Linked DNA regions of Homo sapiens. The protein of the gene in region 1 purifies or fractionates together with the protein of each later gene. This does not show direct contact. Each region holds a gene or a part of one and is shown in the gene's direction. Other genes may lie near its edges.

The links.
Region 2: the proteins of LURAP1L (region 1) and SHTN1 purify together in Homo sapiens (affinity purification with mass spectrometry; 3 studies listed by BioGRID and IntAct, with this or other methods). This does not show direct contact.
Region 3: the proteins of LURAP1L (region 1) and CDC42BPB purify together in Homo sapiens (affinity purification with mass spectrometry; 3 studies listed by BioGRID and IntAct, with this or other methods). This does not show direct contact.

The regions. Positions count from the first base shown.
Region 1 is NC_000009.12:12,769,490-12,779,032, forward strand, and holds the start of LURAP1L (leucine rich adaptor protein 1-like), read left to right. Parts: upstream 1-5,530; 5' UTR 5,531-6,226; coding exon 6,227-6,538; intron 6,539-7,710; coding exon of another isoform or gene 7,711-7,740; exon of another isoform or gene 7,741-8,089; intron 8,090-9,543.
Region 2 is NC_000010.11:116,994,289-117,002,879, reverse strand, and holds part of SHTN1 (shootin-1), read left to right. Parts: intron 1-8,591. UniProt on the Homo sapiens protein: Involved in the generation of internal asymmetric signals required for neuronal polarization and neurite outgrowth.
Region 3 is NC_000014.9:103,046,651-103,055,241, reverse strand, and holds part of CDC42BPB (serine/threonine-protein kinase MRCK beta), read left to right. Parts: intron 1-8,591. UniProt on the Homo sapiens protein: Serine/threonine-protein kinase which is an important downstream effector of CDC42 and plays a role in the regulation of cytoskeleton reorganization and cell migration. Regulates actin cytoskeletal reorganization via phosphorylation of PPP1R12C and MYL9/MLC2.

The DNA.
Region 1 (9,543 bases):
GTATCTGTCATTAGTTTTCTAGCCCATAAAATCACACTTTTTAAAAAAGGCTAACAGCGGTTATTACCTAATTTATAAGTAATCGTATGGAGTGATGTAAAGTAGCCTGTCGTTTTTAATACTTTTTTTGTGATTAAGTAAGTTTGCGTCTATTCTTTGCAGTGACTTTAAGTGTTCTTGGCTGGTTTTTGTTGTTTTTGTTGTTGTTGTTGTTTTTAATGGAGTCTTGCTCTGTCACCAGGCTGGAGTGCAGTGGCACGATCTTGGCTCACTGCAAGCTCCGCCTCCCGGGTTCAAGCAATTCTCCTGCCTCAGCCTCCCAAGTAGCTGGGACTACAGGTGTGTGCCACCACGCCCAGCTAATTTTTGTATTTTTAGTAGAGACGGGGTTTCACCATGTTGGTCAGGATGGTCTCGATCTCTTGACTTTGTGATCAGCCTGCCTCAGCCTCTTAAAGTGCTGGGATTACAGGTGTCAGTCACCGCACCTGGTCCTTGGCCACCTTTATACCTCTGCCAAATAAAAAGAAAAGTATGAAACAAAAAGAAGATTCCAGTTATCTCATATTATTCACAGCCTCATGTCTAAACTACACCTCCAAGACCCCACATCACTCTATAGTGTTATGATTTGAAGTCTGTCTCCCACAAAAGATATCCTGAAATCCTGACCCTATGGTACCTCAGAATGTAACCTTATATGGGGAATGGGGTTGTTGCAGTTATAATTTGCTAAATTAATTCAATATGGTGGGTGTGCGTGTAAGAAGACAGAAATTTAGACACAGACACAGAGGTAAAATAGCCATGTAAAGACAGAGGCAGCGATTGGAGATATGCGAGCACAAGCCAAGGAATGCTGGGCCTCCCAGAAGCTGGAAGAGGCAAGGAGGAATCCTTCCCTAGAGGCTTTGGAGGGAGCATGGACCTGCCCACATCTTGATTTTGGACTTCTAACCTACAGAACTATAAGACACTAAATTGCTGTTGCATGGTACTTTGTTATGGCAACCCTAGGAAACTAACATACACGTTTCACAAGTTCACTATTCTTCCTGCTTTCTGACCTTGGGACTCATATTCCTAATTATGGCTTTGCCTAACCCTTAGACTTAAAACTGCACTACGTTTTCTGGCTTTGTGTTTTTATTTTCTTTCTTAACTATAATTAATGATCGCCCTCCAATGATTTTATGAAACACAGGTGTCCTGGTGCCAACCAATCCCAGTTTGCAGGAGACAATTGTTAAATTTTTGAGAATTTTGCAAGCTGGTTGCTAAACACAGCCATTTTTTTTTAAAAATTACATTGTATAAGTTTTAATATAGGAAAACAAAAACAAAGGTAATAAATGATTAAAACTCATCACTTCCTAATTACTTAAATACATTTTACTACTCTCTGTGCTTACTACTCTTGATGCTTTTAAGGTTATTTACATGTGTTTTACCTGTATAGTGGAAACATTATGTAATGATGAACTAATTCCCATCCTTTCCCAACTCACATCTCACATTGGTAGCTTGATATCAGCCATAATGAGAGTATTTACACCATGAATGTTGCTAAAAGCTACAAATCAGTTATTTTTATATTTTCAGAGAGTTGGTTATAAACATAAACCAGCACAGCATTGAAATGCTATAAAGTCCATTCTATAGGCCAAATTGGGATGGCTGTAGAGGAACAGAAAAAAGTTAGCTGGAGAGATCTCTTTTCTTGGCCCTGCATTGTACCTTTCAGCAGGAAGTTAGAGCTCAGGATAGCAAGAAAAAGCAAATAAAGGATGCTATTACAAATAATGAAGGCAGAGAGATTTGACCGGGATTGTGAAGAGGGGATAAGGAAGACTTAGATCCTGGTGACCTACTTTTAGTATTGTCTGCTAAATCCTCAGGGAAGTGTTTAGCTCTGATTATAAATATTAATTAGATTTCAATCAGAGACTATTTAAAGGGTCTGTACACCTTAGAGAGAGACATTTCAGATAGATTGATTGTTAGAAATATATACAGATATAGTAATATATATAGCATTTTCATGTACAAGTGGTTCAAGTTGGTAATAAGTAGATGATTTCACATAGTAAAACAGACCCAAGCCAGCTACAAAATTATAGGTAAATTAAATGACTCTATAAATAAGCATGATAAAACCTTAGTAACTTTAGCAGATATATAATTCCACTGTATATGGATAGGGTCAACATTCTTTAGCTTTGCTATAACATCTTCCTTGTTATGCATATAAACTGAACAAAAATATTTGTAGAAGCAGCAGCTCTACACATTTAAAAACAAACAATGAAAGAACCTGATACTTATTAAATAGTGACTTCCTAAAATTCTTAGGCATAATTTGAGGCTGTTGGCTGCTTGACATTATTCTGCACTGTGGGGAGTGGAGTCTCAGGTAAGAGACCCTGTCCTAGCCCTTGAGCTCTGTGACAGCAAGAGTTGGGAATGCTGCAAACTTGCAATCAGTGCCAGAAAGAAGGTGGAAGGTGTTTCTTCTTTTAACCACAATGCCAGCAACAGATTAAGGAGTGGTGTTACCCACACTACATGAAGCGTTGTTGAGTCTACTCTTGCTGTGAGTATTGTGTCTCAAATCAGGAAATGTTCTAAGTGTGGAATGTGTGAAGCGTGCATCACATCAGTCTGTTGTGACTGAGGCATTCTTTCAAAACCTGTCATCTGAGTCCAACAATGTTCCTATTTAATTAGCCACTAGTTTTTCTTTCTTTTTAATGATAAATAAGAGGCTCCCTTTCCTTCTCCGTGTACACAACATAGCTAGGGAAGAAACTCAGTCTCTTAAAGTCCTGCATAGTTTAACATTCATTCTTAGATTCTTTATGCATTTTGAATAGAAAAAAAAGGCAAATCCAGCTCATACATATGGTGGTCTTAAAAGGAAGCATATAATGAAGTATAAAAAATTACATCACAAATAAAAACAATACAATAACCATTTTTACAATTTTACTCTGCAATGTATTATTAGACTTGGAGAAACACTGCGAGTTTAGGTGGTTGTTGGCATGGCAAATGCTACTAATCAAAGAAACAGAGGTAGTTGGAGATGGACCAGAAAAGTAGGAGCAATGAGGGAGTGCTACTAAGAGTGATATGACTCAAGAATTTTTCCCTCTGTCTTTCTTAGTTCTCCCTATGTTCCCTCTCCCAGTTGTTGCTGAATTCACTGCTACCCCCAACCCCCATCCTGGACTCATTACTGCAAAGTCTTCTCAACTGATTCCCCAACTCAAGATGTAATTAGCTTCTCAGGCTAAGAGCAATTGGTAAAACATCTCACACATTTTTGTCCTTGTTGTTTGTGGGCATTTTTGTATGTTTATTGTTTTTATTTTTGTTTTTGTTTTTTGAGGCAGTTTCTCACTCTGTCTCAAAGACTAAAGGGCAGTGGCTTGATAATAGCTTACTGCAACCCCGAACCCCTGGACTCAAGCAATCTTCTGGCCTCACTCCCTCACCCCTAACCCCTTAGCTAAGACTACAAGTGCATGCCACCATGCTTGGCTAATTTTTAAATTTTTTGAAGAGGTGGGGTCTCGCTATATTGCCCAGGCTGACTCAGTTTCTTGAGAATCTTGAAAACAAACAAACAAAACACATGCTCAAGAACCAAAGTAAAAAAAAAAAGTTTTCAAATAGTTTGAGTAAGAAATGTCCTCAGATTAAACCACATAAAGCAGTTATGGTAGCATTAACAACAATCTATTATAGATCCATAAACATTCAATGATTTTAATATATTCTGAAAACTAGCTAAAGCATCATTCAAAATGTCTTCATTTTAAACTAAAATGTCAATAGGCATTTAACCGAAAAAAAATTTAAAGCTTGACATACTAAGCTTTCCTTCAAAAGTTTACATTTTTTTATATTTCACTGGAACAAAGTTACTTTGCATATACATCACACTTTTACTCTCAGAGGAGTTTCTCCTGCAGACTTCTTTAAAAAACTATATACATATATACATACATATACGTATATATTAAATTATCCTCAGCCTCAAATACTGATTTTGCAGTCTGTGATTCATAGCAGAAGAGGTGTCCCATTTTTCTATATTGACACACGATAATTTGACATTTGTTTTTTACTGACCAATTTCTAGCTAGATATTTCATCTATAAACTGCACTTAGCCAGCCTTATGCTGAACTTTGTAAGGGTTTTGTAATAATAAACTGTTCTTGACTGAAACACAAGCCTTTCATAATTACATGCCACAGTGCAATTCTTATGCAACGAGCTTGTGTTTTTCCAAATTTAGGACCAAGCATGTAGTTTTATCAGTTAGCTGGGATTTGGTCTTGTTTTCCCTTGATTCTGTAAGTGGTAGTTCTAACTTTGAAATGGGTCATCTAACTTATAACTATTTTCTTCATTTCTTTTTAAAAGGGAGAAATAGCATGCAAATTTCTGGCATGTTGATAGAAAGTTCAGCATTTTTTCCCTGACATGAAATATTTCATTTAGAATGCGTATGTTTCCTCTACGTATAAGGTTTCCTAGAGTCAGATATGATAAAAACAAACTCTGAGATGTATATACCTATGTTCCTACAAGTGTAAAACCTGAATGATGTCTCTGGAAATGGAGCCTCGGAGTGACCAGGAACACAAATACTTATATGTCACAGAAATAGAGGGGCACATACTTTGAAATATTTCAATGGAAATCAAAAATTGTAGTTTACTGGATTGAAATTAGTATCCTCTACTTAAACATTTTTGACACAAACTCAATGCTGATTCAGATCTGTAATCCATGTAGCTCATAATAACTTACTTGGTAGAAGTATTTCAGATTAATGAATTGTACAATTGTACAAATTAATAAATTGTACAATTGTTCAACTATACAATTAATTGTACAATTTGTATAGTTGAAAAAATCTATAAATTAATTTATAGATAAATTATCAAAGAAGACAACATTTTAAATAGTTATTCCCAATATTTTTTCTTCCATAATTAAAATAAAAGTAAGTATCTCAGCAATTGCTTGTTCTTAAAATTTCACTGCTATCTCAGCAGTCATGTAAGTTATTCTGGCTATTTAATTTTTCACTTTTGTTTGCATACTGTAACAGTTGGTAGGATAATTAATTTTGATTGTACATTTCCATTGAACTTTTGATGAAATTGTTTCACTCTTTTTATTAGAATAAAATTATTAGGAAAGTCTTCTAAAGAGAGGTTTTCTGTTTGTTTTTCCTTTGAGGAAGGTAGAGAGATGGGAAACGAAGACACCAAATATAAAGTCATTCCTCTATCTCTCATTTTAAAACCTGTTTTAAAGGTTGTAGCTAGTCAGGAAAACTGAAAAATCAACTGGTATTCCTAACTAAAGCAGGGCTTTGAAACTCTGCTACTAGCGACAGGGTTGGGAAAATTCCGGTTGCTCTTCTTGTCTGTGATATACGGTAGAAGGGTTGGTCCTGGTTTGGTCCACCTGCCAGCGGAGTTTAAAGTTTCCGAGGCTCAGAGGAACACAATGACTTGGATCAAACAGCCTAAATGGGAAGAAGGACATTTTTGCTGCATCAAGGAAGCCGTTAAACTCCTGCTAAGCTAACTAGCTCTTTTTTATGGGTCCATGCACACGACCGAACTCCTCTTTCACTGACCAGAGATTATTTCTGACAACCCAGGATATCCCGAAAGCTTGGAGGCATATGGCTGGAAAATGAAACGACCCAGGACATCGTTTCTGGCTGCATCATTATTTTGTGTCGCGTAGTACCAGATGGGCAGTCAGTGAGCGGCGCAGGGATGTGAACGGACGGTTTTATAATGTGAAAATTTTCCCTTGGTAAAGCTAAAACAGATTTAATTTCCCTCTCTTTTCTTTCACTACTTCCCCCTCTTTATTCCCCCTCTGTCTGCAATATCAGTGAACTCAACTTTGCAGTGAGGTGGCCAAAAAGAGAGAGAATGAGGAGATCTTGATCATCTTAGTGTCGGAGGAGTCGCAGCGGACTGGGAACTGCAGCTGCGACCCCCCGCGTCCTGTGCGGATTTCAGGGCTGATACCGCATAGGCGGTTATGGAAAGGACGGTACACCGGAGCGGCGGAGGATAGAGACCCTGGCCCCCGGAGAGGTCTGCTGATTTCGCAGCAGCCTTCGAAGCCGTGGCTGCCTTTCATCTGCTGCGTTTTATTACTATTATCGCCGTTCCGGAAAAGTCATGGAAGACAGCCCGCTGCCAGACCTCAGAGACATCGAGCTGAAGCTGGGGCGCAAAGTACCCGAGAGTCTAGTGCGCTCTCTCCGTGGGGAGGAGCCGGTTCCCAGGGAAAGGGACAGGGACCCCTGCGGGGGGAGCGGTGGTGGTGGCGGCGGCGGCGGCGGCTGCAGTAGCAGCAGCAGCTACTGCAGCTTCCCTCCCTCCTTGTCGTCCTCCTCTTCGTCCTCCCCAACCTCTGGCTCCCCACGAGGTAGCCACTCTAGCGCCCTGGAGAGGCTAGAAACCAAGCTTCACCTCCTCAGGCAAGAGATGGTGAGTGTGGTGCGCCAGCCGCGGGGGCTGGGACCTGGGCTGGGCCAAAAGATGGGGCGATCTGAGAATGGGGCTGGGAGAGAGGACGGCAGGGGCTGCAGAGCGGAGCGCTGGGCGCGTGGGAAATGCTGGGTGGAGGAATGAGCAGGGGGCGCTCATCCGGAGGCAGCTGCTGCGAGGCTTGTTTACCGCGGACTTTGCTCGGTCACGGTTTGCAAAGACAGCACAGTCGGCTGGCTCCACTCTGTGTACTTTCGGACAACGCGACTCACTGCGCCGGGCTCTATTTAGCTGCCAGCCCGTAGCCTCTTAGGCACCAGCCCGTTGAGAGTTTGCAGTTATTGCACCCATCTAAGGCCTGCTGTGCGCTGTTAACACTTCGGGTAGGTTCAAAAGGTGGCTCAGTCCAATGCACTTACTGCAAAAATACTTCCTGGTTTGCCGGGAGGTGGCGTGGCAGGGTCCTTGCAGCCTTTCCTCCTAGCTCACCCTTCCACCAGTACCGCTCCGCCCTCCTGCCCTCCCTTCTTGGTGCAGCAGCCGCAGCTGTTCCAAGGCCACTGTCGAGCAGATTCTCCACAGCTGGTTCTGAAAACAATGGCCTACTCGTCCTTGATGTACTTATGAATAGCTTGTTTCACTATTTTGATCCCAGGGAGCAGGTGATCCCCAGGCCCAGGGATCTGCTAAGGACCATCTCCCACCCTTCTCCCTCAAGTCTCAATCTGCAGTTGTTTTCCCTGCTGTTTGCAAACGTTTGCCTGAGCATAGGACAATGAGATAAGTACAAGGTCTAGGAATACTCATTCTGGAAGTATTTAGACTAAGACACTATTTACTTGCCATGAGCTCTTGGGCACGTCACTTCACTTCTGTAGACCTCTGTGAATTTGATGAGCTGGTTAGAGAAAATGATCCCTCCCTAAGTCCTTTGAAAAAAACGACCACAAAGCAACAGCATTTTCTACTAGCTTGGAGATAAGGAAAGTTGCAACAGTGGGCCTCAAAAAGAGAAAATAATTTCATTAAATTAACTTCACAGTTGCTTTTGATTTGCTTCAAAGTAGGCTAGGAGATTTCTATCACTCCGACAGGAATGCTGGAAATTATTTCTATCATTCTATCGTTTAGTTATTATAGAGTTCTATCATTTAGTGATTGTTATTTTTTAGGTTGGACAAAAATTTAAGGACAACCCTTAGGTACATAATGGAGAAGCTGGAAAGTGGAAGTCATCTTGATGAGTTTGCAAAATAGATGAAAAGATAAAATGGAAAAGATGACAAACCAACAGGTCAGGGGATGCCTGATACCGTATCACAAAGATCAGACATACGTGTGGAGACTAACAGGTAAAACTATTTTCCACAAGAAAATTTCTTGTACAAGGAATTAAGAATGTTGCTAACTCTGCAAATTAAGGACTTAATATGAGGGACGAAGACATCAAGGAGATGAGGAAATTTTATTCCTAACCATGTCTTCTGTAATTTTACCCATGGAATGTTAATATATTCACTTAATCTAATAAATAAATCTTGTTGAAACATATTTTCTTTCTCAGTAGCTCACTGATAGCACATCAAAGATAATACTGTCATTTTGCTGGACACTCAGACACAATTTAGAGTATTTATATATAACTTGAAAACAGTAACATTTCCAAAAACCGATGAACCCCACCCTGTCCCAAGGAATGATTGGTATGTATGTGAAGATCATTTTCTGACAAAAATAATTACGTTCCACTTAGGATGCACAACCATGTTGTCCTGTAGAGAAGTCACAAGTTTTGTGAGAATTTTTAAACTGATGATGTTTATTTCCATGGTAACGTGAGTATACATTTTACCTTCTATTGTAGTGATGAATCACAATTAGTTTTTTTTTATAGGTTGGTGGAAAAGTAATTGCTGTTTTGCCATTGCTTTTAATGGCAACCACAACTACTTTTGCACCAACCTAATATTTATTAAGACTTTACTTTTTTGAGACACAATTTCTGAAACTGGGATTTATGTTGAGAGTCTCTAAGGTCCCTGATAATTTGTCGCATTTGTTGTTGTTTTTTGGAGAATATTTCATCACTACTCAAATGATGGTCCTCTGGTCTGGTGGAAGCTTCGTAAGCTTTGAAGCCAGATAAACCAGGGTTTCAGACAAGTCTAGAGCAAGTCAGGATATCAATAAGACCCAATAGGATGTAGGGCTGCCTGTCTAGGGAGACATTTAGCTTATCTTCCCCGGCAAAAAGGCTTGTCCCGCTCTCTGTGGCCCTCATTCTAGTCATGGCTTTTTCACTCACTAGTGTGTGGCACTGAACAAGTTATAGAACCACTTTGAGACTCAGCTTTCTTGTTAACATAGGAATAAGAGCATCTCCATTAAGGCATTTTAAGAATTCAGTGAAATAATATAAGAAAAACAACTATTACATAGATATTCAAAAACAGTAAGGATGCTGGCAGTAATGAGCATTACATCAATGACATGGGTTCCGTTGATCTTACAAAAGCAGCCCTACATGGATAATGTGGATTTGGGACTGATGAAGGCCTAGATATCTTCTCCACCAGACTGACTCTATCATGTCATCTCCCATGTCATCAGATACTCTCTGTAGAGACGATGTTTCCAAACAAACTAACGCACAAAATATGTGTAGGTTTCCCTAGCTTCAGTTCAACTGGAAATCTTGATTTTTATTTTAAATTTAACTTTTATTAAACACATGCTATGTGCTAAGCATGCTGCTGATTGAAGTAGCATGTATGAAAGAATTGTAGAGCCTAATGTCAGGTAGTCCAGGAAATCTGAGGAACTTAAACCAATACAGTAGCCCACCTTATCCATGGGAGATATGTTCCAAGACCTCCAATGGATGCTTGAAACTGTGGATAGTACCAAAGCCTATATAGACTGTTTAGTCCTATGCGTACGTACCTATTGTAAAGTTTAATTTATAAATCAGTCACAGTAAGAGATTAACAATAATAACTAACAAT
Region 2 (8,591 bases), on another chromosome or scaffold:
AAGTGCATATGAAAGGTAATAGAACAGTTAGATATTCAAAGTTGTGTTTCTTAAAAGGTACACTTTTGGGGATAGTGAGTCTAGTTACAAAGGTGTTGGGATTTTTTCAGCCCACAGTGTGATTTTTATACATTTCAAAACCAGGTAGTTTGCTTGTCATTGGATCACAGACTGTGGAAACAATTTACTTCAAAAGTGTTCAGTTACTGTTTGACCTGTAGAACTAATTGGGAAGCTAGGGATTTGGAAGAACAGGTAACTGGGTCTTTGAGCATTTAACAGTACATACTATGATCAATTTTGTAAGCTGATGGTTGCATGGTTTATTTTTGAAAATAGTAATTTTTACTACCTGTTACTACCTTTTTACTCACAATGTTAATATTCTGAGTGATAATTCCACTACCCCTATTTAGTGTGAGCAAGAAGAACCACTATTTATCAAATATGTTATTTTCCCTTAATAATGCTGAGTAAACATATTTATTCATTCCTTCAACAAATACTTATCAAGTACCACCATATGTCAGGTCCATGTGGTAGGCACTAGGGGTGTAAATAGTGAACTACACAGTCCTTGTCACCAAATTAATTTTCTAGAAGAGAAGACAGGTACTATTCAAGTTATCATATGAATAAATGTACAATTACTTTTTTATTCTAGGATAGATTCTTAGAAGAAATGGAATTGTTGGATTAGAGGGCACGGACATTTACTTTTGCTAGACATTGCAAAAGTGCCCTCCAAAATGATTATACCAGTTCAGATATCCTTCAGCAGTACCCATTTCCCCACACATTGGTCAACTCTGGCTAATAGCAATCTTTATTCATTTGATGGCCTGACAAGTTTTTGAATTTTTGCCAATCTAATGGGCAGAATGTTACCTTTTAAGATTTGCATTGCTCTGGTTATTAGTGATGTTTGAAATCTTTTTACATGGCCATTGGCCATTTAGGTTTCATCATATGGGTCCTTCCTTAGTGATTTTTTTTTAAACTGATACATGAGACTTGTACATATTTATAGAAGACATGGGGTATTTTGTTACATGCTTAGAATGCATAATGATCAAGTCAGGGTATTTGGGATATCCATTACCTCCAGTATTTATCATTTCAATGAGTTGAGAACATTTCAAGTCCTCTCTTCTATCTCTTTTGAAATATATAATACATTGTTGTTAACTGTAGTCACCCTACTTTGCTATCAAAATGTTAAAACTTACTCCTTGTATCTAACTATGTTTGAACCCATTAAACAATCTCTCTTCATTTTGCCCTGCCTTAGTAAGTTTTAAGTCTAAAACTTGAACCAGTTCCCCAGGAGAGTGTTCAGAAAGGAGATTCCTGTCTACTCTAAACCACAAAGCTGACAGCAGCCTTCCCTAACGTGAAGCCTTTAGTGGTGTGGTGAATAAGGTTGCTTTTGACAAAAGTTGTGAAATGTAATGACGGAGTCTGTCATAATATGAACAATCTCTAATTTATACTTACCATTCCCTAAGCTCTATGTCTTATAAATCACACCCACTTCTGAATTACTTCAAAACATTTTATGTTCCCTCCTAGTGAATGGTATAATTAGCTATATTATGTCTTTCCAGAAAGTTATATTATGTCCCTTTAAAAAAAATTAGCCAGTGTGTGATTGCTTATGTTCAAGCAGATGTTGAGGTAATGAGGTAATTCTCCTTTTGTCTTTTTTGGGGCTTTATTTTATTGGACTGATTGACATCTTTAATGCACCGAGAAATGGCAACTTTGGATACTATTTCCGAGGCATATTTCCTAGCTACTAAAGTGGATATTTCCCTTACAAAACATCATACAATTTGCTCCCCCTCCGGAATTCAGTGGGAAAATGATAGACTTAGTTCAGCATTTGTTTAAGGTGCATGATTTTCTGTATAATTCATTCAGCCCACATGCATTGAATATTCATAGCCAGGCACTGTGCTAGGCATCAGAGAGATAGAGCTGAATAAGACCTTGCCTCTGCTGGTGAGGAGTTCCTGGTCTAGAGATAGTGCTAGGCATGTAAATTCCAGGAGGAGTGTCTGATTGGCCTAGTTTGGCCAATCTCATGTATTCAAATACTTTGGCCACGGGAGGGCAGGATACTTTAATTGGCAGCCCCTGCAAAGATTGGAGGAATAGTCCAAAACAGAATGGGGTGCACTACCATGAGGATGCTGACCGGGCAGACACAGACAACACATGTCTGCTAAACTGTTCAGTGTAGTAATGCCATGTCATTTCCAAGTTGATGAAATTTTGAAGAGAGATGGCTATTTAATAATAAGGACATACATAAGAGGAAAACAACCACCACCACCCCAATAATGGGCAATTTTTGGGCTAACAGTATTTAAAATGGATTTCCTATGGTGAGGTAATTGGTTTTAAAGCAATTTTAAACCTCTTTTCACCTTTAGAGTTAGTATCGTTTTCCCCAAGATTATTGAGATGATACTTAAGTTCACATGGAAATCTAGTCAAGCTTATTCTTAGAGCAAGTTAGTAATTAAAAGATGCATCCAGTATTCCATTGGCTTCTAGGCCAGGAAATAACTGGAGCATTATTTTGACAAAACAGTCTGAAACTATTGCCTACCACAATGACCACGTCAGTCTGGGAAAACGGAAGCATTGACAATCTTGGGTGCATATGAGATCAGCCAGTAGAAAGCTGTTTGGAATTAAATGTTGCCTTGTTTTCAAGTGCAAACTTGGTTTTACATCAGTATTTTTCAAAGTGTGGTACAAGGGCCAGCTGCATCTGAATCACCAGGTACTTATCAACAATGCATTTTCCTCTGAAAGTTAGGGAGTGGTTGCTGAAGAACAACAGTTTGGCAACCCCCCATGAGATGAACATGCAGTGTGGGCTAAGGAACTATGTCTTCTAGTCAGAATTTCACTATTTCCTTAATATTATTTATTTATTTATGTATTTATTTATTTGAGACAGAGTCTCACTCTGTCACCCAGGCTGGAGTGCAATGGCGTGGTCTCGGCTCACTGCAACCTCCGCCTCCCAGGTTCAAGCAATTCTTCCGCCTCAGCCTCCCAAGTAGCTGGGACTACAGGCATGTGCCACCACACCCGGCTAATTTTTGTATTTTTAGTAGAGATGGGGTTTCACTATGTTGGTCAGGCTGGTCTCGAACTCCTGACCTTGTGATCCACCCGCCTAGGCCTCCCAAAGTGCTGGGATTACAGGCGTGAGCCACCGCACCCAGCTGTGAACCTTTTTTAAAATAAATGCAAAAATAAACACATGCTCATAGAAAACAAGTGTGTAAAGTGAAAAGTACAATTAACTATTCTATCTGACCCATTGTTTCTCAATCTTTATTTCATTATCACTCTCCTAAGGAAACTTTTTAGGCGTTTTATGCACTGTGACTCTTTGAAGGGCCATAAGCCATTGTAATATCCAAGATCTTTTCTCTTATCTCCTTGAGGATGAAATCACTACATTGACAATGCATGCTATGACCCCATTCCCATTTCCCAAAGTTAACTACTGTTAACCTTTTGTTTTCTTTCCTTCCAGAAATTGTGTTTGTATGTGCATATGTATTTATCATGTAATATGTAATTTTTTATATTAGTACATGTAGCGTTGTCATTAAAAATTGATTAATGTTCCAATGTACAGACGTACCACAATGTATTTAATGTCCTCTGGATGGACATTTCTATCTTTCTTTCCTTGTTTTTGCTATTACAAATAATGCTTCTGGGCTGGTTGTGTTGGCTCACGCGTATAATCCCAGCACTTTGGGAGGCCAAGGTAGGAGGATACCTTGAGCCCAGGAGTTTGATACCAGCCTGGGCAATGTAGTGAGACCCCATCTCTCTAAAAAGAAAATGCTTTTGGCACTGGATTCATGTTGGAGACATCAGTGTGAACTCATGTTTAGCTTAATACAGGTATGGATGGTTACACATATATATATATGTTGGTATATACATATATTTTCTTGCTCTGTCAGCTGAGAGAGCCTAGATGCACCAGTATCAATGAGCACATCTAGAGCCCAGAACTTGGCTTCTAATGCCATTCTCGAATAAAACGAACAGGGTTCCTAGGAGAAATGGCTAATTTTAGGAAAGGGGCAGGAAATATACAAGATGAGCCTAGGGCATCTTGTAGTGTGGAAACTAAGGAAATGCACCAACTGATAAGCTGACATTGATGGAGATACTGTAGTCCCTGCTTACCCATGGAGGAAGCTATGTTTCAACACCTGCAGTAGGTGCCTGAAATCATGGATAATAACAAACCCTATATATTCCAAGTTTTTTCCTGTGCATACGTATCTGTGATAAAGTTTAATTTATAAGTTAGGCACAATAAGAGATAATAAAAACTCATAATAAAATAGAACAATTATAACAATATACTGTAATAAGAGTTATGTGAATGTGGTCTCTCTCTCTCTCTCTCAAAATATCTTGTGGTACTGTAGTCATCTATTTTCATACCATGTTGACCATGGGTAACTGAAACCCTGAAGAGTGAAACGGTAGATAAGAGGGAAACTACTGTCTGTCAGAGACACAAGAGCCGATGGAAAGAACATCCAATGTCCAAAGACGGAACTCTGAACAACAGAATATTGGATTATAATTCAAAATTTGAAGTAATATTCATGAGTTGATACTGATATAAATAAATGATTAAAGACAAATCTCCCATGCAGAGCAATTCCAAATAATTTATGTAGATGTTCCCCCTCAAAGCGGTGTATCTTAACTCCCTGATTCTTTTTTTTTGAGACAGAGTCTCGCTCTGTCCCCCAGGCTGAAGTGCCGAGGCATGAGCTCTGCTCACTGCAAGCTCCGCCTCCCAGGTTCACACCATTCTCCTGCCTCTGCCTCCCGAGTAGCTGGGACTACAGGCGCCCGCCACCATGCCTGACTAATTTTATGTATTTTTAGTAGAGACAGTGTTTCACCGTGTTAGCCAGGATGGTTTCGGTCTCCTGACCTCGTGATCCACCCGCCTCAGCCTCCCAAAGTGCTGGGTTTACAGGCGTGAGCCATCGCGCCTGGCCCTAACTCCCTGATTCTTAAGTGTGGGCAGCACATAGTGAATTCCTGCCAAAGACTACAATATGGAAAAGGGGGAACCAGTAACTTTACAGTGGAGAAACCTGACAAACACTATGTCAGCTAGATGATCAAGGCCAACATCAACAATGATGATAGCATGATAGTGTGATGTGATGAATTGGCGTTTTACCTCTGTGGTCTTCCCCTAAAAACCCATAAAGCCAGTCGACTCATGAGGAAAATATCAGCAAATCCCTATTGAGAGACGTTCTGCAGAATACCTGATCAGCACTTCTCCCAACTGTCAAGGTCATAAAAATGAGTAAAGTCTGAGAAACTGTCATAGTCAAGAGATGCCTTAAGGATTGAAGGGTAGAAAAAATAATCTGTCCCTCAAACCTTGTAAGTTCATAATTGGGACAGATACCTGTAACAAAAGACATGAACAAGCAAGTTTATTAATGCATGCAGTGCACATCGCAAGGGAGAAAAATAAGCAGTGGCTCAACATACTGTCTTCAACAAAGAACTATACATTTAGAAAAGTGTTAGGACAAAGGAAAGCAGTTCCAGGCTTCCAAAGGCAGGAGAATGTGGGAAGGTGAGTTTATGGGGAAACTCCTGGGGTAAAGTCTACTCGCAGATTTCTCTGCCACCATCTCTGAGGTGATATGGGTTGTAAAGGAGAATGGGTATCTTGTTTTTAGGTGGGAAATGGGGAGAAGATAGACCTCTTGTCTTTGTAATTCTGTGTCCTGCTTTTAGGCAGACAGAGGGAAGGCAGATAGTTTCCTTCATCCTAATTATCTTTAGCTCGAAGGTCTTTCATATTTTGGGGAGATAGGCTGGTTTCCTTCAGTTCTCCCCTTTGAAACTTTACTTTCAGAAAGTCTCACATATTATGTGCTAGGCTGGTAGCTTTGGAGAGGTATGGTTGTAGATAAGTGATTGGCAAAGGGGAAGAAAACCAGATTGGAACCAGCAGAAAAGAACAGATTTAAGTATATTGTCTCATATCTTATTGAGTCAGTCTCTTAGTCCTGAGACTAGGTTAGTTTAGGTAAACAGTCATGTTTTATTTCAAGAGGTGGTGTTATGGGTGATCTCTTTAATGTTAGGTTTCTATATGTATAAGCATACAAATACTTAATAAGAGACATTTCTATGAAAAAAAAGGAAAAGCAAGGTTAATGTTTAGAGCAGTCTATAAATTAGTTTCTGAGTCTGGAGAGCAGCCAGTTGAGAGGATTTATAAATCTTAGGCTCAAAGTGTCTTCAGCTGGAGTGGGGCAGGCAATTGCAATCTGACAGATTTTCCTTGTTTGTAGTTTAAATATCATAAAGGTTGTCGATACAAAAGCTGTTGTGGTGATTTCTCTTATGTTTGTATCAAGTTGTCCAGCTTTAGCTTGCATAGCTTCAGAAAAAGCCCAATTTTAATTTCAGTGATTCCAGGTCAAAGGGTGGGAGAAAAATTGGAAATGTTAGTTTGGAGACTCACAGCCAGGTATCAGAAAAAACTAAAAGAATTTAGGATCCATTCCAGATTGCAGGTAGTTAATAAAATCTCAAAAACAATGAACAGGGCTAGAATCTAGTAATGGGTGAACTATAGTTTCTGAACTATTATTTTTCTGAAAATATTTTTCCTCTCTCACACTAATTTCTACCAAAAAGAATCAGTAAGACCAGTTTATTTGTAAAATAAGTTTTTGTCTATTATACTTGGCCTAATTATTTACATAAATGCAGCAAAAATAGTGATTGACTATGTAAGCCCTTTTAAAATCTGCTTTGCTGGAACTCTTCATAAGGAATCTCGGATTAGGCTTACAAAAATGCCTCCTTAGGCTAAGAAGCCAAGCTTAGGACTCAACATCAGATTGTGCCTATAGTAGTCTTAGATAGATAGCTCTCTTCCCTAGATTCCTGATGTTCCTGGGCCTGTCAGGAAGGTGACATTCTTTACCCTATAAGGCAACCATTTGAACCATGTATTCAAGGTACGAGGCCAGTATTTCCAAGGTGCCTTTATTGGCCCCATTAAACTGAGGTTCCTCTAGGGACCTCAGTTCCCAAAAACTGGTCATATCAGAAAATACGACATTCTCATCAAACTTTGGCAATATAACCAGTATTTTCAATTGTATCCTATTAAAAGAAGAACGGATTCTTCCTGAACTTATGCAAATGCCTATATTATCCTAAAAATAAGAATACTCATGAATAGTTTCCAAATTTTGGAGGGATCAAGTAAGGAAGAAAAGTAAATGTTTCAATTCTATTTGCAAAAGTATACTTTACCAAATTGTCTTAAGCCATAGATAGCGCAAAAGAAGAAAATGTTTTCCTAAATCTGGAAAATAAAAGAATCAGTAGTGTTTCTAATAAAGTCCTAAAAATCACAGTCCCTCATCATGTTAGTCCCATGTAATTAATTCTTAATTTTGCTCGATGTTAGCAATTTTAGGAGTTCAGTTTCTCCTTTAGATTTCTGGAGTTCATACCTAGTCCACTGGTATTTCCTTAAAGTTATCAGAGACCTGTACAGGTCAGAGTTCTTTTTGTTCTTCCCATATACCTCCTTGAAGACCCAAAACTTTAGGATTATAATTGCTTGCAAAAAGCTTTTAGAAAGAGCATCAGAATAAAGCAGTTATGATAAATGTGAACAACAAGACTTAAAATGGCCATGGTTAAAGATCTGATGGGAGTTCATTATGATAATAATGCAGTTGACAAGGAAATTTGGTTGTTTGTGAGATATAACAATTTAACATAATCAGAATTATGACAGGTAGCATGTTAGATTTCTAGGAATATCATAGTTTTGAAACACATTAATAACATTCATACAAATAATAACTCAAAGGTTAGCATTACATGTTATTTGACAATGTTTCTTATATAATTTAGCATGCAGAATAAACCTAATGGGTTTATTTAATATGTCACTTTCAGACTTCCAGGGAGCCCTCTGGAAATCCTAAAGTTAGTTTAAGGTAAAAAAGACATCATTTACAATTTGATTTTGGGAGGTTTGTAAAAAAGATTCAAAACAATCAAAATAGGATCACAGGTCACTGTGAAATAATAGTCATTCTGATTGTGAAATAATATTTAATCAGACTGATAAAGGCTTCAAAAGCAAATAGGAAGGCATATAGTTGTAGAAAAACCTTAACTCTTTAACTCAATTTTCTAAAGTAATCAAAGACCCAATAAAGACAATGTGAAGCACAGGGAATCATCTTGATGAAACACAGAATCTCCCCTTCCCCTTCCCTCTTTCCCCTTCTCTCTCTGTCTCTACAGTTGACTAAAAAGGTGAACAAAAATCTTTTATTTTCTCTTGTCAATACTATAGGAAAATCTTTTAAAAAAGACCAAATTTTAGTTTTATATCAGTATACTTTAGATATCAAGGCTCCATTTTAAATCTCGTAATAAATTAATTCAACTTTTGTTAGTTTAACCATACAAGACTTTCTCTTGCTCTCTTTTCTCAACTTTCTGTATCCATT
Region 3 (8,591 bases), on another chromosome or scaffold:
AGTGTTGGCCAGGCTGGTCTTGTACTCCTGACCTCGGGTGATCCACCTGCCTCGGCCTCCCAAAGTGCTGGGATTACAGGCGTGAGCCACTGCACCCAGCTTGTTTACCGTTCCTTTCTGATCACTCGATCTTGAAACCCACACAGTTCCACTGTCAGGTTCAACTTGGTGCACCACCTGTGAGTGTGACTGGGAAGAGGAAGCAGAGGGAAAGTTGGTTTTGCTGGGAAGATGTGGTCCCACTGGCCTCTGGCCTGGGACCTAGAAGATTAGTCTGAGGGCGGGGGCCCTGGGGGCCATTGTGCAGCCACCTCTCTCCACCAGGCATTACTGGTGGGCTTCCCTGGAGGAAGCTCTTGTCAGCATGTGTGGAGGTCATATTTTATGAGATCTGGCCTTTCCAAATCTAAACGGGAACTGTGCTGTAACATAGACATATTTTCAAAGTTGTATTCTGGCTCTTTGGAAATTGTGATTACAAACTACATTATTCTCAGGAACTCAGTTTGCACAAAAGTATAAACTTTCAATTATAGGGAAGAATGGACTTAGAAGGTGGTGTTTTAATGAAATATCAATATATTTTACAAGTATTTAAACTCATTTATGTTAACATATACGTCATTGTAACTCTAAAGTGGTGTATTTCTAGTTAACATGTGTGCAGTTAGTATTTAATGTTGCTTGGAATTGCCTGGTTGTTTCGATTGGAAAGCACAGAATAATGTTTTTGAATAAAACTATTTATAGAGCAATATTAGGTACTCTAACTTCCAAGTGGAATTACTTCTGCTCAGGAAACACATATAGGCTGTCCATCAGTGGACTGTTCAGTTTTTGGATTCACCACTCCATGACATTTGAAACCTCTGATATGTCGATTCCTGTCACGTGGAAAAGCCAACCTTTCCCCACTTCCCAAATCTTGCCAGGTATCTAATGACAATTATGGAGAATTCTTGAAACTTAAGGAAGAAAAGTAGCTGATTCAGCCCAGATTTGGAGGCTTAATGGGGAATATGTGAGGAAATTTGGAAAGTATAGGTAGTAAACTTTTTAAGTTTTAAAGGAAGATTATGGCCTGGTGCAGTGGCTCATGCCTGTAATCCCAGCACTTTGGGAGGCCAAGGTGGAGGATTGGTTGAACTCAGGAAGACAAGACCAGCCTGAGCAACCTGACAAAACCCAGTATCTATAATAAATGTCAAAATAAAATTTTATAAAAATATAAAAATTAGCTGGGCATGGTGGCGCACACCTGTAGTCCCAGTTACTCTGGAGGCTGAGGTGGGTGGATCACTTGAGCCTGGGAGGTCAAGGCTGCAATGAGCAATGATCATGCCACTACACTCCAGCCTGGGCAACAGAGTGAGACCCTGTCTCAAAAATAAATAAAATATGATTATTTTTGGCTCATATTTTCTTATTGCCACAGTGGTCGCATGGGACAAGAGTCATTTCAACTTTTTTTTTTTTTTTTGAGACGGAGTCTCACTCTGTCGCCCAGGCTGGAGTGCAGTGGCGGGATCTCGGCTCACTGCAAGCTCTGCCTCCCGGGTTCACGTTGTTCTCCTGCCTCAGCCTCCTGAGTAGCTGGGACTACAGGCGCCCGCCATCACGCCTGGCTAATTTTTTTGTATTTTTAGTAGAGACGGGGTTTCACCGTGTTAGCCAGGATGGTCTCGATCTCCAGACCTCGTGATCTGCCCCCCTTGGCCTCCCAAAGTTCTTGGATTACAGGTGTGAGCCACCGTGCCTGGCCGAGTCATTTCAACTTTCATTGTAGGTTTTTGTCTTTAATTTTCCTATAGCTTGATTGGTTTCCTCTATGAAATCTTGAACCTTAATGCCCAGCTTTGCGTGTGTATTCTTTTCTTTTCTTTTCTTTTTTTTTTGAGACGGAGTCTCACTCTGTTGCCCAGGCTGAAGTGCAGTGGTGCGATCTTGGCTCACTGCAACCTCCGCCTCCCGGGTTCAAGCAATTCTCTGCCTCAGTCTCCCGAGTAGCTGGGATTATAGGTGCCTGCCACCACGCCTGGCTAATTTTTGTATTTTTAGTAAAGACGGGGTTTCACCATCTTGGCCAGGCTGGTCTTAAAGTCCTGACCTCGTGATCCACCCTCCTCGGCCTCTCAAAGTGCTGGGATTACAGGCGTGAGCCACCACGCCTGGCCTTGCATGTATATTTCTTTAAGCTATTTTGAAAATATCTTGATACCATTTGAAGCAGAACATATGAAACACTTTACAGTTTCCAAAAGTAAATAGCAACAAATACGGACAACCCAGTGAGATGAATTTGTTGTCTTTCATCTTTGTCATATACAAATACTGTCTTATGTGTTAAATATTTTTCCCACAGCTTATTTGTAACAGCTAATGTTGCGTTTGGATGGAGCTGATGTTTGAAATCCTAGCCTATGGGCATTGGACAGGCCACAGTGGTCCTCTGCCCTGGCTGCTGTGTGGCCGTCAGACCAGGAGGGAGGCCTCAGGCTTGATGCTGGTGTCACAGAGGCGGACCGTGGGTTTCCAGTCCCCAGTCCGGGCATCTTCTCTCGAGATGTGCTTCCTCTTCATGAATAGAATTAATCCTCCTAGTCTTCTGGGTGGTTCCTCATTTGTGGCTTTTCTCACCATGAGTGTGATAGTATCTTCTCACGGTCCTCCTCCATGGATGTGAATGCCCATAGCTGTTAGTGTGGGAATGGCCAGCCCAAGGTGTGAGTGGGATGATGCCACCGAATTTAATAAGTAAGGCTTAACTGACACGGTGCTAAACATCTCATAATAAAAAGTGCTGGGATTACAGGCGTGAGCCACTGTGCCCGGCTCAAATACATTTTTATCTTAATGATTTCTCTGGATAGAATATTTGCATAACATGGGAACACTTTTTAAAAATAACAGACTTAAGAAATAGATCTTTTGAGTAAGATCTGAATTATAGGGAAATGTTAGGATTGCATGATAAAAATTAGTTTAACCTAATTTAGATCATGTAGATTCTATGGTAGCTGTTTGATACTGACTATAATAGCATGAGATAGGACAGCTGAAACCATTAAACATTAACAACCCAGCCCTACCTTTTCTGTCTTAAAACTTCAGGCCGGGTGTGGTGGCTCACACCTGTAATCCCAGCACTTTGGGAGGCCAAGGTGAGTGGATCAGGAGTTTGAGACCAGCCTGGCCAACAAGGTGAAAACCCGTCTGTACTAAAAATACAAAAATTAGCCGGGTGTGGTGGCACGCATAGTCCCACCTACTTGGGAGGCTGAGGCAGGAGGATCTCATGAACCCAGGAGGCAGAGGTTGCGGTGAGCTGAGATTGCGCCACTGCACACCAGCCTGGGCAACAGAGCAAGACCCTGTCTCCAAAAAAAAAACAAAAAACCTCTTCCTTCCATGACAGTTGGGCTTCACAGTGAGCAGCAGTGTCTCTCTTAAATCTAGACTTCAAAGAAATAAAATTGGATTTGAAGAAATAGTTCTCACTTCAGGATACCACTGTGTGAGCTACCTGAAAAAGTTTAAAATGTGCAGTGAATTGCCCTTCAGGCAAAATACTCAAATGCATGTAAATTACAGAACTCACAACACTGCAGGGTTGACAGAGAGCTCCTCTGCTTGCCTCCGCCCTGCCTCTTGTCGCAAGCCAGGTGCCCTTAGATGTCTCCTGGTTGCGCTGACATTAGTGATACTGGATAAACAGGCAGGCACACAGGACTGTTAATTCCAAACTATATTAAATACAGTGAAACTGTCAAATGCTTTTCTCTGAAAAGAGACAAAGCTTTTTTTTTTTTTTTTTTAGCTGGAAGAGACTAAAAACAATGTTACCATGTAATCTCATCCCAAAACCCATAACATAATACCTATTAGTCCTTGACCACGTTTGTTTTTTTCTTAGATTCTTAGTGTTATGGGATGACGGTATGTTATGGTTACCTTAAATTTGTGTGAGAAGCTCACAGAAAGCCTCTCTTGCTAATGAGAATGGATGAGAGGAAACACCCTCTCCTTAAATCTAAAATCAGAAGTGTTTTGGCAATGTGAACTGCGTGTAGTAATCTCCCGCCCCCCCGCCCCAAATACACTAGCCACTAACTGGGAGATAAAGGTCAAGTTTCAGTTTGATTTTAAACAATCTGTGTTGGGGGTTAGGTTTTTGGTTAGTTTTATTGATTGGTAGGTAACAGTGGCAACAAAATTGTTTTTTGATTAAAACTGCAAAAAATCGATGTGTAATAGAGAACTTCTTTGGATTTTTGTTTTTCTTAGGAATTAGAAATTCAAACATAAATTTGAATGGAATGATATAATTTCATTCAAATTCGGTCCTTGGATTGGAGAGTCTTTGGAGAACATTTGGGACCTATTGTAAGGTGATTCCCAGTGTTAATTTAGGTGATGATTTCCCTGACCTCCAAAATTGCAGAGTCATAGGTTGGAAAACTGTTAAGAATTTTTTTTTTTCCCCCCAAGACAGGGTCTTGCTCTGTTACCCAGGCTGGAGTGTAGTGGCTCTGTCATGTCTCACTGCAGCCTTGACTTCCCAGGCTCAGGCAGTCCTCCAGCCTCAGCCTCCTGAATAGCTGGGACAATAGGCATACACCGCTACACCTGGCTAATTTTTTATTTTTTGTGGAAACGAGGTCTTGCTGTGTTGCCCAGGGTGGAATTGAACTCAGGCTCAAGTAATCCTCCTACCTTGGCCTCCCAAATGTTGGGATTATAAGTGTGAGCCACTGCGCTCCGCTATGTTAGGAATTTGGGGAGGTCATGTTAACCTGCCCTCCAGCCCACTCCCCACTCAGGTTGGGTAAACCAGGTTCTGAGCATTTTCCCTAACCGTTTCTGGGCAAACAGCCCTCTAACCAGCATTTCTGTCCTTCACAGGACTGCGGTCAGCCTCAGGCCTCCTTGCAGGTGCCTGCTTTGAAATATCTTTATTTTATTTTAGCCTTTTCTTTCTATTCTCATTGTCAGGGACCTAGGTAAAGCTCTCAGGTCCTCAGGCCTAAATGAATGCCTTTCCCACTTGAAGTTTTAAATACCTCTGCCAGATCAGTCTCAAACTCTCTTCATCACTCTGCCTTTCCAAAACTACAATGCCTTCATATTCTGTTGCCTTTAAAATAAAAAGTCTGATATCCACAATTCAGTATTAGAATTTGAAATTGACCCCAAAAGACGCATCTAATCTTAGCTTTAGAAGTTAAGGTTATGGCCGGGTGTGTTGGCTCATGCCTGTAATCCCAGCACTTTGGGAGGCCGAGACGGGTGGATCACAAGGTCAGTAGTTCAAGACCAGCCTGGCCAACATGGTGAAACCCCGTCTCTACTAAAAATACAAAAATTAGCCGGGCTGGTGGCGCACGCCTGTAATCCCAGCTACTCAGGAGGCTGAGGCAGGAGAATCACTTAAACCCGGGAGGCGGAGGTTGCAGTGAGCCGAGATTGTGCCATTGCTCTCCAGCGTGGGCAACAAGAGCAAAATTTTGTCTCAAATAAATAAAAAAAGTTAAGGTTAACAGCACTTCCCACCATGCCCCATGGGGTGATTTTCTTTTAACATCATTTAACTTTTATCAATGTAATGCATTTACTTAGTTTTGGAAACTAAGCGGTACTACTGGGTTGTAGTGCAAGACAGCAGTCCCTCTACCAGTCGCTTGCTCCGCGCTCCAACTTCCCACAGACTACCACTTTTAACTGCTCTGTTTCTACTTATCATTTTAGTTAGGATCACATTTAGCTGCCAGTAATGGAGAACAAAGTGACAGTGACTTAAATAAAATCAGGTTGATTTCTCTCACGTGAAGTTGACGTGTCAGCAGTCAGTGCTAGTTGGACAGCCTTGCTCCAAGAGGCCTCCGGGGCTGTGGCCTTTTCCCACCCTCAGGCCACCATCTGAGACGGTGGCCATCCCACCCTCCTTCAGCCAAGCAGGCCGGGGGTGGGATGTTACTATAGAAGATCCTTGGATATTGGTGGGTGCTTAGCAATGCCTGCCTTAAATTTCATATTTCTGTGTAGCATGCTGGTACTGCTAATTTCTGATTTTACCATTTTAGACATTGCTGACTTCTGCTGTAGAAGAGGCCTTAGAACTGTTCTACATTGTCCCTCCACTGCCTGAAACACATTCACCCCTTGCTCTTTTTCTGTGTTCCAAATATGTTTATATAATTTTGTTTAAATTGGTAATTCAGTGTCTGCATTCTTATTGTTAGGTAACTGTCTTCACAGCTAAGCCATGTAAGATACAGTTTACTAAGGGAAATAGTTTTGTGTTATTGGAGTGAATTTTCTTTATTTTCTTTTCTTATAATAATCCCATGGAGTAAATTTTTTTTTTTTTGGAGATGGAGGCTCATTCTGTTGCCCAGGCTGGAGTGCAGTGGCATGATCTTGGCTCACTGCAGCCTCCGCCTCCCGGGTTCAAGTGATTCTCCTGCCTCAGTCTCCCGAGTAGCTGGGATTACAGGCACCCACCATCACACCTGGCTAATTTTTTTTTTTTTTTTTGAGACGGAGTCTTGCTCTGTCGCCCAGGCTGGAGTGCAGTGGCCCGATCTCGGCTCACTGCAGGCTCCGCCTCCTGGGTTCACACCATTCTGTCTGAGCCTCTCGAGTAGCTGGGACTACAGGCGCCCGCCACCATGCCTGGCTAATTTTTTTTTTTTTTTTTTTTTTTTTTTTTGTATTTTTAGTAGAAACAGGGTTTCACCGTGTTAGCCAGGATGGTCTCCATCTCCTGACCTCGTGATCCACCTGCCTCATCCTCCCAGAGTGCTGGGATTATAGGCGTGAGCTACCGCGCCCAGCCATGCCTGGCTAATTTTTGTGTTTTTAGTACAGATGGGGTTTCACCATGTTGGCCAGGCTGATCTTGAACTCCTGACCTCAAGCAGTCCGCCCGCATTGGCCTCCTGAAGTGCTAGGATTACAGGAGTGAGCCACCGCTCCCGGCCGAATTTTCTTTAGCTTGGTTTTCAATGTACAGTCATGAATTTAGTGCCAGGCTTTTAACTAGAACTCCTCCATTAAACACCTCACATAATCTTATCACCTTCATCCCTTCCAGGCCTGCCACTTTTCTGTTTCAGCCTGGGCCGGGTGTCCTGCGGGCCTGCTACTGAGCAGTCCTCCTTGGAGTGCTTTTCATTCCTTGCAGGGATTCTTCGTGTCTCTTTCCTCTGTTGAATTCCCCTTTCTGGATTCTGTGTCTTTCATCTTTTGGTGGAGTGAATCTTCTAGTAGCTTCCTGAGAAAGAATTCATCGGAGGTGAATTTTTTGAACCAGGTCTGTCTGAAAATGCTTTTTTTTTTGGACACAGAGTCTTGCTCTGTTGCCCAGGCTGGAGTGCAGTGGTGCAATCTTGGCTCACTGCAACCTCCACCTCCCGGTTCAAGCAGTTCTCCTGCCTCAGCCTCCCGAGTAGCTGGGACTGCAGGTGCACACCACCACACCCAGCTAATTTTTTGTATTTTAGTAGAGACAGGGTTTCACCATGTTGCCCAGACTGGTCTCGAACTCCTGAGCTCAGGGAATCTGCCCGCTTCGGCCTCCCCAAGTGTCAGGATTACAGGCATGAGTCACCATGCCTGGCTGAAAATGCCCTTTCTTCCCTCACATTTGAATGGCACTTTGCCTGCGTACAGAATTCTAGGTTGGAAGTCATTGTTCCTCAGAAGTTTGAAAGCATGGAGGCATTGCTGTCTACACTGAGAGTGTTGGTAATGAGAAGTCGGAGACCACGATGGTTTCCAAGTCTCTGTGTGGGACTTTTCTTTTGTAAAATCTCTGGAAGCTTTCAGGGAACTCTTGTTTATCTCTAATGTTCTTTGGTGGGTCTTTTTGATTGGGACGCTTGGGTCCTTCAGCTCTGGGGAACTTTTGTTGATAATACTGTAGTTTTAATGTTTGTTCTAATTTTTTTTTTTTTTTTTTTTGAGAGTATTACTCTGTTGCCCTGGCTGGAGTGCAGTGGCGTGATCTGAGCTCACAGGAACCTCCGCCTCCCAGGTTCAAGTGATTCTCCTGCCTCAGCCTCCCAAGTAGCTGGGATTACAGGCGTCCACCACCAAGCCCAGCTAATTTTTGTATTTTCAGTAGAGATGGGATTTCACCATGTTGGCCAAGCTGTTCTCGAACTCCTTACCTCGTGATCCACCCGCCTTGGCCTCCCAGAGTGCTTGGGATTATAGGCATGAGCTGCCGCGCCCAGCCAAGAACACTTAAAAATGAAAGATACAGTGTCAGAAACAAAAATTCAATGTAAGGCTGGGCGCGGCGGCTCCTGCCTGTAATCCCAGCACTTTGGGAGGCCGAGGCAGGTGGATCAACTCTCAGGAGTTGGAGACCAGCCTGGCCAACATGGCAAAACCCCGTCTGTACTAAAAATACAAAAACTAGCCGGGCATGGTGGCAGGTGCCTGTAATCCCAGCTACTCTTGTGGCTGAGGCAGGAGAATCGCTTGAACCCAGGAGGCAGAGGTTGCAGTGAGCCGAGATCACGCCACTGCACACCAGCCTGGGTGACAGAGAGAGACTGTCTCCAAAAAAAAGTGTTGTTGTTCTC